Linked DNA regions of Homo sapiens. The protein of the gene in region 2 interacts with the protein of the main gene of each other region in a pairwise test. Each region holds a gene or a part of one and is shown on either strand. Other genes may lie near its edges. The genes, in order: CA8 and TBX3.

Evidence for each region.
Region 1: the proteins of TBX3 (region 2) and CA8 interact in binary tests that used the Homo sapiens proteins (3 or more experiments, as listed by UniProt).

What each region holds. Positions count from the first base shown.
Region 1 is NC_000008.11:60,277,994-60,285,786, forward strand, and holds the start of CA8 (carbonic anhydrase-related protein), read right to left. Parts: upstream 3,408-7,793; 5' UTR 3,155-3,407; coding exon 3,055-3,154; intron 1,888-3,054; coding exon 1,696-1,887; intron 1-1,695. UniProt on the Homo sapiens protein: Does not have a carbonic anhydrase catalytic activity.
Region 2 is NC_000012.12:114,673,775-114,681,195, reverse strand, and holds part of TBX3 (T-box transcription factor TBX3), read left to right. Parts: intron 1-49; coding exon 50-317; intron 318-1,223; coding exon of another isoform or gene 1,224-1,283; intron 1,284-1,544; coding exon 1,545-1,691; intron 1,692-3,539; coding exon 3,540-3,616; intron 3,617-4,725; coding exon 4,726-4,883; intron 4,884-6,360; coding exon 6,361-7,031; intron 7,032-7,421.

The DNA.
Region 1 (7,793 bases), on a different chromosome or scaffold from region 2:
GGCAGGGGTGGAAGAAGGAGGAAGAGAAAAGCACAAAATGCTAGGTGAGGAAGAAACACACTTCATGGTGAGAGGGCCCAGATGTTGGTCCATAGTCTCTGTTTTAGAGTGAGGCAGAAGATTAAAGAAAATTGTGTTTGAGAAGGTAGCAGAAGAAAATGGTAAGTTCAAATTGATGAAGTAAATTTTATCTCAGAGCAGGACTAGGCACACACAGATGCAGTGGAGTATATGTGCTTAGTCATTGCTCTCTGCTCCCACAACCCTTTGTAACACTTGCCACATCAAGTGTACACTAGTACTTTAAAGAACTGGCTTTTCACTAGGCTATGAATCCTCAAGAACTGTCTTATAAATTTATATGCAACCAATATTGATCATGGCACCTGACATGAAATGTATTTTTGTTTTGTGGATATATAAACATTTATTTCCGGAAGTTCAAAGCATCTCAACACATCAACACACATGTACTTCTTTAAATTGCTTTTTATATGCCAGAACAGTCAGCATTCAATAATTTTACAATATCCTTTAAAAAACAGTAAGTAATGTCCCATCAAAGCTAAACCCACACCCCCAAAAAAATTCAAGTCGAAATTTCCATCTTAAACTGACTCTGACTAAGTACATATAAAGCCCAGTAACTCTTTTGGGCAATGCTCACATGCTGACTAAACTCAGAACAGCGAAGGAGACTACATGAATCTATGACTATCTCATGGATTCTAAATTAAAGCTTAGAAACATTTACAATGAATAAAATAAATCCATAGCTGGAAATCAACAGCTGCCTTGATTAATAACAAACCTAAAGATTTTATAGTTTGAGGTATCAACTTTATCAACTTGGAATTAATTTTCGAGCACAGTCTCTATTTATCAAGTACGTCCTAATATTTCAACATACTTTAATTTTTCCCAAAAGAAAAAGACAGTTATTATTCACTATGAAATGCATGCTATTAATGCTACATTTTTTAAAAATCTGATTTCCTCTTTCCTACGATAAAGCCAAAAACTGATTTCCTTGGTAATTACCTAACAACTTTTGCACAGAACATTTCAGATCCATCTCAAATAGGTTTGCAAGTGGTAGGAGAAGTTTCATGGGATGGAACTTAAATAAATAAATAAATAAATAAATAAAAGGAAGAGGTTTGTTTACCATTTAAATCTCTGGCTGAGTTTAGAGGCTGTTTCTTATTGTTATTAGTTAAAATTATTTTTGGCAAACTAATACAGTAGAGAAAATTAACCTGAGAAGTCTACCTTGAATGCCACGTTATGTCAATAAATTCTAATCTTTGGTTTCACAAAGTAGCAAAACAGAGAATTATGATTATCTAAGTGATTTAAGCTAATCAACAATTTTGGACAAAACGCAGATTACTGCACCTGCATGTACCTGTCCTCATATTTCACAAGGTATAAGGTGATCAAACTAAGGTTTTTCCAGTAACATCATAAGAAGCAGAACAACCGACTGATAATCTTCATAATTTCACTCTTTTGTCCTTTCAAAATTGTTTCAGAAGGTAATTCCCAAAAATGCTTTATATTATAATACAAAGGTATCCTGAAAATAGAGATACGTCAGTTGTACTTTTTAAATTGTGCAAGTTAAATCACAGTTCAATAACTCTACGCTGACTTCTAGTTTAAAAGACCACACAAACATATTTTCTAAAATACCTGATTTTGACTTCAGGATAACCTGAATGGTATGTCCATCATTGGTGACTTCACAGTCTCGGCACACCACATAATTTGGGGAGAGGCGGACATCCAACAGCGAGGGGTCATACCTAGCCTCTCTTGAGTTTAGGTTAATAGGAGACTGGTATTCCCCATTAGCATCAGGAAACACCAGACCCCACTCAACACCTAAGAACAAAATGAAATAAATTAAAAACAGGTTAAAAAATAAATTACAGTAAAATTTAACATGTAAAAACTAAACACTTAGAACCCTTGATATCATGAAGAGAGTAATGATACCATCACTATACAGATGAAATATGGTAATTCTATTTGTTTTTGCATTCATTATTTGAATGATCTGTTATTATCAAATACCATACACAAAATCCCGGACTAGCAAAATATTCTATTTGTATTTGTCAACAAAGACATAATAATTTATGATTCTAGGAAATTTGGGTCATTTTTAAGTGATTAGGAAAAAAGAATACCAGAACAATTTCTTCTGCTTATTAGTTCAATTACGTTCAGTACCTGGGAAACAGCTGTAACTTTCAACATACTTAGTGACAGTCAGAACCCTAACTCTCATGCTAGTAAATAGACGCCCCTTATCAGAAATGCAAGTGTAGTATTTTAAAGTGTGCATATGTATATATCTGTGTACATACATATTCCCATAGTCTTTCCAAATTTTTTATAATTAAAATTATATATTCTATATTGGTTTCAACATATGTAGTAAACATCAGCACTACTGGTTGGCTCTAATAGGAGCCCTAGGTCTTTAGGAATAAATCTAGGAAACTCGAGTTTTTCAGAAAGTCAACCGCTTCTCGCCAAACCCAATGATTCAGTCTGAAATTTAGGACATGTTTTAGAAAGACTTGAGCATTGCTAGCAGGCTTCACGAAAAGACCAGAGGCAGAAACACTTTCTCCCCAAAGTCTCCAAGCCAAAAACGAATTCTTCACGCTAACACTGTCTTCCTCAGGTGTTTAGTAAAATGTACCGCTGCTCTTCTTGACTACTCAGAAGACATAAAAGGTACAGCCACGGCTTGGAGGCTAGCCCGCCCTCCGGACCGCAGCAGGTGCGAACGCCAGCCCTGCGGAAGGCTCCCGGGTGAGAGCGCAGGCGGCGGAAGAGCGCAGGCGGCGAGCACGCCTCCCTGGAGCGCCTCCCGCCCGAAACGCACCAGGGGAGTGGGAAAGTGGCAGAGACCCCCGTGGGAAAGAGGGGGCGTGGGGGTGCTCGGAGCGCGCAGCGGCAGCAGGACTCGAGTCCCGCGCTCGGCGAGACACTGACGCCGCCGCGGGACCCCGGACACCCCGACTCGCGGCCACTTACCTTCCTCGTAGCCCCACTCCACACCCTCCTCTTCTTCCTCCTCATCCTCTTCCTTCTCGGGGAAGGCGACGGTATCTTCGATGAAGCTCAGGTCCGCCATGGGAAGGCCGCGGGGCCCCTCGGCGCTCTCGGCAGCAGTGCCTGCGCCTTCGCTGGGCGCGGGGCTGGAGCCGGAGCGGAGCGCGCGTGGGGGAGTGTGAGCACGCGTGAGCGGCAGTGTGAGTGCGAGAGCGCCTCCGGGTGTGAACCGCAGTGTGAGTGCAAGCAGGCGTGCGTTCGGACCGAGTGTTCCAGAGACCCGCGTGGGAAGCGCGTCCGGAGGCCCCAGCAGAGCGAGGGAGCGGCTGTGGCCTGGGGAGCGAGCGCCTGGCGAATTTTATACCCGACCGGGGCGTGTCTGGTACGCGAGGATCCGCCCCCTTCTCTCTCTGGCCGTTGGGGCCAGGGGAGCCGACAGTTAGAATGCGCCTCGGGGCGACTAGTCCCAAGTCACGGAAACCTCGGCGCATCCCCGCCCGCCCTTCCCCCGGGGTCGCCCCCGCCGCCTCCTGGCGCTTCCTCGCTGCGGCGACTCCTGCTTGGCCGCCCGAGCCTTCCTTCCAGAAGCCCGCAAGTCTCCCAAGGTCACTCGGGACCCCTGTGTGCCTGGCCTAGCCCAGAGGCTGCTCACCTATTCATTTTCATCCGTACTCCAGGAAATACCAAAAAGAAGGGGTCCTGGAGGAGAGAGATGGGCTGCCGTGGGTAGGAGAAAGGAGAGGGCTAGGAGACCCCGTAACACAATAAAAAGAGACTCTCCAGCGGAATCTTCTTAGTATCTTCTGAGTATTTACTTTTTAAATCGTCCGTTCAGCGCAGTGGAAACGAGTTTGGAAATTTTTCCAAGAAAGTTCTATTAATTCCTAAAAACGTTTAAGAAAAGAAAATGGTTGTTATCTAGAGAAGTAGCTATGATTTAGGGTTGTGTTTTTTTTTTTTTTTTTTCCAGAAAAGGGTATTGTTTCAAAGCAGGGCTAGCAGAAGGCAGTAGACAGAGGGTGTTCGCTGTCAGAGTCTGGGGCGCTGCTGCAGGCTCACCTGGCTGTGTACACAGCTCCCATTCACCTAGTGAAATCGTGTAAATAATGAAGTGCACACATTGCATAACAAACAGGAACTCTTCTGATCCAAAGAGGTGGCATTGTTACCCTTAAACGTGCTTCTCAGTCTAGTGTTAACGACTTCAGCCCTCTGTTCCTGTGCCTTTTAAAAGCCCTGGTCAGTAACCCCTAAGTAGGTTAACTCCACATTTTTAGAAGATATATGTGCACAATAAACTCGAGTTAGGACCTTAAGTACAATTTGTTTTTTATATGCTCTGGTCATTCATGAAGATATCTATTTGCACTTTGAATAACCTGTTCCTAAATCACACCAGCCTTATGAATGCATAATTCCTCAAATAAGGATGGAAATGATCCGTTTGGGAATGTTTAGTTTCAGTGCTCATATCCTTTACTGCCTGCTAAGCACCTCCACTTTTTAAAAAGACACTTCATAGCTTTTAAAAAAAAAAAATTACAAACTGCTCCAGAAAGTACACTGAGATGGAAAGAAGTGGGGGGAACCCTCAACTCGCTCAATTCTGCCACTTTCTGGAAGGTTTAACCAAATATATGGAAAACTACTGGCCAACATTAGCTTGGAGGATAACCGGTGGATTTTAAGCATTCATATAATTTCTCTTTTCCTTAACTGTGCAGAGGACTGAAACAGTTTGAGAAACTAAATTCATTTTTCACTCACTGCATTCTGGGTGTTCTTTAGTGGACGGTCGTTTGCATCTTTGCAAGCCTGGGACTGGCAGAAGCAGAAGCCTACCCCAAAGCCAGAGCTATTAAAAATAATAAGCACTACTGAAAATATTAACTACTTTTCACTGAAGGTCTTCTAAAAGGAACATTTATTTTTCCTTTCTTGAAAACTTTTTTGTAATCTTCTATTTGTTTTAAGTTTCTTTTTAGAAGTATGTTCACACGTTAATTAAATGCCACAGCTAAGGAAGCCCATACAAAGGCTATGAAGGAATTGGATAATAAAAGCACTGCCACTCTGAGCTCATCAGCAATGGCCTTTCTCCTCTGTCCCCCAAATGTGCCTAAGTATGACATTGTAGCCATTGTGTGACCACCAACTGTGTTTAAAATATCAGGTGAATCATAGAGATGTTTATCAAACCAGAGGATGGTACAATCACCATGGTAAAAAACTGAATTTTCCATGAATAAATACTGTGCCATATTTACAAAAGATAGGCTGAAAGATTGAATTATTAGTATTTACTTTTACAGTAAAAAGACAATTTTGCATATAGCCAGCAATGTATTACTATTCAAATATGCAGTTGACTACTAGCATTGGCCTATATTTGCTCCTTCTGAATTGTTCATGATTATTTGTAGAATGTAACTCCTGTATGCAAGCCTAGGGTTCCCTGTCCAGCCACATATGAGCCAATCCTCTAAGCACCCAAATATTCAATTAACAGCCTTAATTGCTTTGAGACTGTGGGGTTCAGATTTTTGCTAATTAACAGCACCTTAAGACCTTCTCTTCTCAGGTCCCTGCACTATATTACCACCAAAGATGGAATTTCTATTTCTAGTTATTATAAGGTGTCTGTCACTAAAAAAATCTAAACACACAGATCAAAGATATAGGGCAATTCTTTGTTTTACAAAATAGAACAAGCACATCTAAATCCAATACCAGAGAATCTAAAAATATTCATACTCTGTATTATGAATGTGTCTTCCACATATTCCTCTATAATTTTTAATAGGCTTTCAGCCTAATATTATATTTGATCCCTTAAATTAACTTTATATTGCTCACATTTAGTGCTTGCATAGCTAAGACCAAACCATATTAGTAGAACAATTTATTAAAACTAAGACCTATATAACTAACTACCATTTGATACTAAGAGAATATAAATAGAAATATCTAAAAGGGACAAACTAATCTAGATGTCAGAGGAACCAAAGTACTAAGGTCGCTTCCCAGAGTCCACAACCTAGACAGCCCGCTCCTGTCTTTCCTCACTGCTTGTCTACCGTACCAAAGCTTTCTTATTGTATCGGTGAGTCTAGGCCCTAGAGTCATAAATTTGACCTCCTCTTATGTGCATCTTATGCTCTGGGATCACCTCAAGGGTACAGCTAACATATGCATGTCACGTGGCTCCTATACAAACTGTAATTCATAAACTTCAACAGCAATGAATTGGGTTCCTTCATGTGCGCTGCTCTGGACTAGGCACTGTGGGAGAACCAAAAATAAAAAATAAAATACTTCTTCTGCTCTCAAGGAACTCATGGTTCTCTGGAGGGAGGAGAGGGGTAAATAATTATAATACAAGGCAATACGCAATATTAATATGTTAAATAGAAATGCAGGTACCACTACATCTAAGGAAGATGGAATTTTCATACTAATGGGAATGATTTAGAAAAGTTGAACAAGATGGCATTTGGGGCAAACTAGAGGAAATGGGCAGAGTTTGGGTGGGCAGCATGTGAGCAAATAACATTCCAGGTGTGAACAAAGATGCCGAATCATGCAAGTGCTCATTGCGGATCTATTTGCTCCCTTAAATGCCATCTGTGACTGCCAAAACCAATTCAGATACACTAAAAATAAGCACTTCTCTAGGCTTATGTCTCAGGTAAGGCACTTTTTCCTATGGTTGTTTAATTCCTTATGTCTAGTTTTTCTTTTGTCAGGAAAGACAGCAAAATTTTCTTCATTATATATATTTTGATTTCTGAAGGTTTCAAACTTTGTTGATAAAAAAATTTACTTCTTCCTTTTAAATTACTTTTTTCAACTGATTAATCTTTTATTTCACCTGCTTAAAGTTACATTTACGAGCCTCCTTTTTTTTGACCTCTTCTTGGTCTTTTATCTTCAGAAACAAACGACTAGGGCTCCATGTAGTCATTGGAGATGACATCATTGTCTCTATCATTTGCTGCCCCTTCACTGCTTGACCATGTGACTTCTTTGACGAATTAAATATGAGTAGAGGTGGCACGTGCCATTTCCTAGAAGAAAGATTTAGGCGTTATCAAAAACAGACATAGTAGCCCATCAAGTAAAGGTGAGTTCAAGGATAATTTTTATTTGCTCAAATGCTGTTTTTGCCTTTATCTTTTTCTTCAAAGAAAAAAAAAAAGTATCTCTGGCCTGCAAAGAAACCAAACAGTCTAGTACAGTGCTCTTATCTTCACCTCACCAATTTCTTGGACGCCCTAACCCCAGCTAGGGCCCTTACCACTTCATGGCAGAATGAGAAAGCCCTTATCCATAGAAAATCCCCATCTTCTCTAAGGAACATGGACCGCAGCTCTCTTCCCCTCTCTCAGACCATGCGAATTATGCCTGAGGCCCTACATGAATTCAGCACCAAAATGACTTATGCTGAAATAGGAATATTTAAGATAATTACATTGGTGACTCCCAAGTCACCAAAAGCTCTAGGGCACCTTCTGCCAAACAAAACCCCTTATGTGTTTAAGCCACAGAGGTTAAAGTTACCTCTTCTTAGTGCTTTCACAATGCCCTGTATAGATCTCTAACCCTGAAGTTAAGATTGTATTTTAAATATGTATTTTATGACCTTCTCCTCTAAACAATGAGCTCCCAAAGAGCAAGGCACTAGGCACTGTGGGAGAACCAAAAAAAAAAGGAATAAAATA
Region 2 (7,421 bases):
TTACGGGTGGTTTATCTTTCTTTTTCTTTTCTATTCTTTCGTTTTATAGGCGAATGTTTCCTCCATTTAAAGTGAGATGTTCTGGGCTGGATAAAAAAGCCAAATACATTTTATTGATGGACATTATAGCTGCTGATGACTGTCGTTATAAATTTCACAATTCTCGGTGGATGGTGGCTGGTAAGGCCGACCCCGAAATGCCAAAGAGGATGTACATTCACCCGGACAGCCCCGCTACTGGGGAACAGTGGATGTCCAAAGTCGTCACTTTCCACAAACTGAAACTCACCAACAACATTTCAGACAAACATGGATTTGTAAGTTTCATTGCTCTCTTCAGTAAAATTTTCTCCTCCTTCACTCAGTCAAAGGCAGTGCTTCCCATTTCATGAGTTTCAGCCCAGACTTCTCCTTTGCTTCTCCCTAAGCATAGCAAACTTGTCCTCGTCTGGAAAAAGGATTCGGGGTGTTTCTCTCCAAATAATGGAAGGCCTGGCGTTCTAAAAGAAATGGGGCAAGAAAACTTACCGGCTTGTGTTCTATAGCAATTCCAGCTCTTTGGTAGATTCCTGACCTGAGAGTGAAGTTAAAAACCATTTTTTAAGAGCTAAAATCAATTTCAAGGCTATGTATTCCTAAAGGATTTGTTTTGTTTTAAAATATCATACTTCTGTTTTGAAACCAGTGATATTATTTTCTCAGGAGAGTTTACGTTTCGGAGCCTTGACTCTGTTGGTTAAATGGTGTGAATACATTTTTAAAAACTCGTTCTTTTACTAAAAAAAGAATTGGGCTTAGGTGGGAGTCCGGCTTACCCTAAATGAGGCTTAGATCTTCAGAAAAAAATGGTTTGTGTGTTGGGAGTGTATATATGGATTCAGTGACAGTGCTTAGAAACTTAGAAAACTTTCATTGCTTGTAGATATCAGGCAAAGGACCTTTTGCGCCTTTTCCTACCCCTCCCCAACATTTCAATAAAATAAACAGCGTGATAAGCAAGGAGTAAGCAGAAAGATTAGGCCCAGGAAGACGCGAATGGCGCGGAAATATCTTCAGCGGGCAGGAATTGCATTTGAAGCCCTTGATTTGATTAAGGCATAAATATTCCTCTCTAGAGTTCAGCCTTTCAGGGCTTTAAGTGGATTGGGCTCGTCAATTAGTGGGCGCTTAAAGTACTGAATCATTTTGTAAATTAAAATGCATGTTTTTCTCTATCTTTTAAGACTTTGGCCTTCCCAAGTGATCACGCTACGTGGCAGGGGAATTATAGTTTTGGTACTCAGGTAGGCTAGGGTTCAAGGTATGAATGATCCTTAGATGGTGAGGGTGGGGGGGGCCCTTTGGCAACTGAGGAGCAATTTGGATTCTCCAGAAGATAACATCTGTGGAGCGAAACGTACCCAGGGGGTACTCCAAGGAGGTGGGCTCGGTACAAGCGTGGTACCCTGCGGTGGGGAAGATTTCAGCCTGGCAGGGGTCCTAAGATCCCGTTTGTTCTGCTAAATCCTTGTTTTATGTATGTCTCCTCTTCCCTGCCCCTGCAGACTATATTGAACTCCATGCACAAATACCAGCCCCGGTTCCACATTGTAAGAGCCAATGACATCTTGAAACTCCCTTATAGTACATTTCGGACATACTTGTTCCCCGAAACTGAATTCATCGCTGTGACTGCATACCAGAATGATAAGGTAAACTCAAGGGGCTTTCCTTTTTAATGGTGATATTTTGCCTTCCCCTTAAAAGCTGCTTTAAGTCAGGATGAGAAAGTTACAAGAGAGTGGAGACGAGAGTCTTGAGTTGTCTTTTGTGATTTGTGGAGCATTTGGGGGGAAAGGACAATGACACCTCGAGGAGACAGAAAAACACCTTGACTAGGTAGGAACAATGCTGAGCAAAAAAACGCCATACTAATTTTGCCACAGAGAAACTCCTAGAACTGCTGTCATTGATGCCACCCACTCCTCCCCCCCTCTTGGGCTTTGTCCTGTCTGTTTTAAGGTTCATCTTCTTCCCCTTGGGGAAGAAGGATCAAGAAGTCACATTCAAAAGGAACCAGCTAAAAATTTAAGGCAAAAGCCATTTGGGATCCTGGGAGGAGAATCCTAGTAGAGACCAGCTTTTCTCCCCTAGCCAGAAATCCTGAGTAGCTGGTCTGGTTTTTATTACCTTTTATGCTGCTGTGTTATGATGTGTGTGTGTGTGTGCATGTGTGTGCATGCATGCGTGTGGTTGGAAAAACCTACCCTGATCACAGGGTCATATTAATCGAGTTGTCTGAGGCTTTTGAGTTGGGGTGGCCAAAGTCACCACTTCATTTGAATTCCCCCCCTCCCCCAGGCCTGAATCTGGAGGTTAGAAGGATCCCCAAAAGGGAAAGCACCTGATATCTAGAGCTATGGTGGCCTGAAGGTCATGGGCACAGAAAAAGTGACCCTTACTGCTGATTCACCAGTTCCCAGATTGGCTGTTAGCAGTTATGGGGTGGGAGGAGGGACTGAAGACCCCTGCTCTGCAATCCTGGACTTCAAAGAGAGTCCATTTTACCTGACAACACACTTCATTTTGAACTCACTGTCATTGTCACTGTCCTTGGGTCCTCTGTGGACTTCATGATGGGGATGTTCCAGCTAAATTTCTTTAGTGTGAATACCAAAACATGATCTTCTCTCCCTGTGAAACCTGAAGTCTTCAATAGAGCAATTTATTCCAAGAACATGAATCCAACCAAGGGTCCCCCTTTCCACCTCTGAGTAACTCTGTGTATATAACTTCTTCTTCCCACCAAGGGGAAGGGATTTGAAAGATTACACACTATAGCATTTTTCTCAAAGTGCAAAATGCATGTGCCCTCTAGACCCAGAATCCTGTGAAATGAAGTTGTTAATGTAATAATAAAATGTAGCATTTTTGATCAGACAAAAAGGCCATGGGCCTTCTCCACCTAATGGCCATGGCAGAGCATATAAATGAAAACAGATGTTTCCAGTGGTCATTCAGTACTGTAACTGTCAATATTGTAATTTCCTCAAACCACCCCCCAGGCAAAGAAAAAAAAAATTAAACTCACTCCCGCACTCACTCCCGCACAAGGGTAGTGAAACCCCATAAATCATTTATTGGATTCATGGAAAAGGAGTGTGTGTGTGTGTGTGTGTGTGTGTGTGTGTGTGTGAAGGGAGTATGCTATAATTTATGATTAATTGCACTGTATAAAAATCAAAATGAAAGCATAATTTTAAGATCTACAGGTTTTCCCTCTTGATGACTTTGACAACACTTCCATGTCTAAACCCAAACTGTTGGCTGCCCAAAGAAAAGAATTTCTTTGAATAATTTCATCCCCAAATCCCTGGTTTGGCCTCATATAGGAGATACAAGCCCTGCCACAGTTTCCTTATTATCTCCTTTCCCTGGCATATCTATATGACTTCTGTTGGCAGTCACATCTCTAGACTTGTTGAGTTGGGAAAAACACCCTCAAAACATTCTAGAAAATGAGAACAATGTCTCTGTCTTGCTTGTGTCTCTTCCAATAGATAACCCAGTTAAAAATAGACAACAACCCTTTTGCAAAAGGTTTCCGGGACACTGGAAATGGCCGAAGAGAAAAAAGGTGAGTTGAAACAATTATTTATTAGATAGTTTAGAAAAATCCCTTTTTTTAGGATCCAACTCTGAAGTGTTAGAAGTGAGATGCAGGCACTTATCCTAAGAGCGGGTGGAAATCATTCACTTTCCCCACTGCTACATGCTTGCCGCTATCAGTATACCCAGGACAAGTACTTTTCCTACCTCCTTACCTTTAAGGAAATTAACTAGGCTACACCATACTTATCTCTGGAAGAGAAGCATCAGGGATAATAGATTATACAGGGATGCCTATTAATTCCTAATTAATTTAAGTTCATCCTAGGCAGGTCCCAGAAAGAACCATGCCATTGAGAAAATACTTGGGAATTTTTGCAATCCTGTCTTCCAAATACCATCAGACAGAGCTGGGGACTTCGGAAAGATGTATGGCTCTCTCCCTCCTTCGTGGGGACATGTATCATTTTGCATTACGTAGACAGCTGGAGAGTATATGAAAGAGGGTCTCCCCTCCCCCACCCCCTTTCAAAGAATTTCTAAAATCCAGAAAATCACCCCCAAATTTTTAACCTATCCCCTTGGGGCGGGCATTAAAAAATAATTGCTAACAGCTAAATATATTTTTATTCCAATTAATTTGTTAGTAAAACGATTACAGTAAAGTGCAGCATGAAATAACCACTTCCTCCCAATCTTAGCCACCATCCAAAATTTGGGTATGCTGGGGACAGACAGCGTTGTGTTTGCAGGATTGGACACCCGGTTCTCCCTATATAAGGCTGGCAGTCCAGCTGTCTCTGACTAGATCCAGCCTCTTCTCCTGCTTTTAAATAAAATTTCACAGCCCAAGCAAATGCCTTTTCCTAATGAAACCCCATCTTGAATAAATGCAACTGAAGCCTCCTTCCTTTCTCCCTAACCCTCTGCCACACTCTTCAGCCCAGTTAGAGGGTCAAGGACAAAGCTTGGGTCTATGTGGCTGCCCTGGGGCAAGCAGATTTCAGTGAATTAGCGTTGTCCCTGGGCAGCAGGCAGGGTGTGAGGTATGTGTGTGCCGCTTTGGAAAGGGTAAGGGAAACAAAGAGGGGAAATGTATGTTACATTCTGTAACCTGGGTGTGGGCTTCTGCCACAGAAAACAGCTCACCCTGCAGTCCATGAGGGTGTTTGATGAAAGACACAAAAAGGAGAATGGGACCTCTGATGAGTCCTCCAGTGAACAAGCAGCTTTCAACTGCTTCGCCCAGGCTTCTTCTCCAGCCGCCTCCACTGTAGGGACATCGAACCTCAAAGGTAAACCATGTCACCTTTGTGATCACTGGACTCCAGTCCCTCGTGGCCTGGAAGAGTTGAAGGGGGATGGGGCACCAACCAGGGCACTTGCCCTTTAAAAGCTAGAAGCCTTCTAAACATCCTTAAACAGAAGCCAGAGTTCAAAAAGGGCTATCAGGTGTGTCTCCCCTTCCCCGCTAAGGCAGTAGAAGGAGAGCACAGAGGCCTTTCTCCCAGATCCTTATTTGGCTGGTGGGGAGGGGAGGTGGGTGTCTGTTTGCATACTACCTCTTGGCAAGCAGCTTTGAAAACTTGCTTGAAGCGCTTCTCTCTTTTCTCTCTGTCTCTGTTTCTTTCTCCTCCCATTCTCTCCAACCAACAGAGGCTCCAACTGCTGACTTTTCACTGTCTTTGAACTCTAGGTTACAATGTGTTGGACTGGGTGGGGGGGAAGCAAGGGACTCTGCCACCTGGAACCGAGAAGGTGGCCTAGAAAACATCCAGCTATAAAGCAACAATTGACCTGGGAGAGGAGGTGGAGCACTGGGGATCTGCGGTGGGGGTAGAGCTGGGGGAGGTGGGTGAGGAGTGGACAAGATGGCTCAAATCCCCCCTCAGTTACCTGTGTTTAAAGAGCAAGCAGTATTTATTTGGAAAGACACACACACACACACACACACACACACACACACACACACACTCTCAACGGGAAGAAACCTGTTTTTTAGTGAAATAAAATGCAAGTCCTTTATGTCTTCAATCCATTTAAGCTTTAAACATAAAATAGGATCCCTTTTTCTTTTCTTCTGGTGGAACACCCACAGAGGGTGTGGTAAAAGCGAAAAAAGAATCTATGATCGTCCCCGGGCTGTGAGCCATCTGTCCGACACTCATCTCTCTCTGCAGGGACTGGGGCAAATACAAACGGTTCAACTGAGTACTGGTGTTGAAGGACAGGTGTCCGTTCTGCCATTATCAATTCAGATGTCAGGGTTCTTGCCAAACAAATCCTTCCAGAGTAATTCACAAATTTGTGGAAGGTGCTGCTCTCTGTCATTCACTGATTTTTTGATAGTAATTAGAATATGTTCCAGCTGTGAGTTTTAATGTTACTTTTTACTTTTAAAAAGTTAATTTGCAATCGAATGGGGAGATGCATGTGAAATCTGCCACTGTAGGAACTCAAAAAAAGAAGTAAAATTCATTAAAATAAGAAGAGCTACTGATTAGGGGATTGTCCATCTAAGGGAAAGTTTAAACTCTGGGTAAATACTTTAAATTCATAATCGCTTATTGAATTTTCCAGCAATGTTGTTGGGCACGATTATCCCCATTTTGCAGATGACAACACTGAGGTGCAGAGAGGCTAAGGGGCTTTCCCCGGGATTACACAGCCACTAAGCCACGAGCTGGGATTCCAACTTGGGAACTGGAGTTCCGTTGGCTCATACTGGAGATAACGCCCTTCTGCCTTGGTTTTTTCCTTCGCCTGTGGTAGATTTATGTCCCAGCGAGGGTGAGAGCGACGCCGAGGCCGAGAGCAAAGAGGAGCATGGCCCCGAGGCCTGCGACGCGGCCAAGATCTCCACCACCACGTCGGAGGAGCCCTGCCGTGACAAGGGCAGCCCCGCGGTCAAGGCTCACCTTTTCGCTGCTGAGCGGCCCCGGGACAGCGGGCGGCTGGACAAAGCGTCGCCCGACTCACGCCATAGCCCCGCCACCATCTCGTCCAGCACTCGCGGCCTGGGCGCGGAGGAGCGCAGGAGCCCGGTTCGCGAGGGCACAGCGCCGGCCAAGGTGGAAGAGGCGCGCGCGCTCCCGGGCAAGGAGGCCTTCGCGCCGCTCACGGTGCAGACGGACGCGGCCGCCGCGCACCTGGCCCAGGGCCCCCTGCCTGGCCTCGGCTTCGCCCCGGGCCTGGCGGGCCAACAGTTCTTCAACGGGCACCCGCTCTTCCTGCACCCCAGCCAGTTTGCCATGGGGGGCGCCTTCTCCAGCATGGCGGCCGCTGGCATGGGTCCCCTCCTGGCCACGGTTTCTGGGGCCTCCACCGGTGTCTCGGGCCTGGATTCCACGGCCATGGCCTCTGCCGCTGCGGCGCAGGGACTGTCCGGGGCGTCCGCGGCCACCCTGCCCTTCCACCTCCAGCAGCACGTCCTGGCCTCTCAGGTATGGATCCTTCTTCCTGCCTCCACCAGTCTTTCCACCTTTCGTCCAGTTTCCCTGTCCTTTGCCAGCAGACCCTCACCCGATCCCTTTGGCCTAGTAGCTGTAATAATTTTTACTGAGCCATTACCGGGTTCAAGGCTTAGCTCATGGAGTTATTATGACTTCATTCTCCCCATTCACCCCAAAAATCTTTAAAATTTTTCCGAAGTTAAAGGCTGTTTCCAGCAGAGTAGATAGGTAGTAACAAAGATAACAGCTGGACACAGCACTTACTTTCAGGCATTCTTCTAAGTGCTTGCTCTGTATTGACTCATTTGACCTAACCCTTCAGGGGTACTATTATCACCTCCACTTTACAGATGAAGGCGAAGACGCCCAGAGATGTTGAGT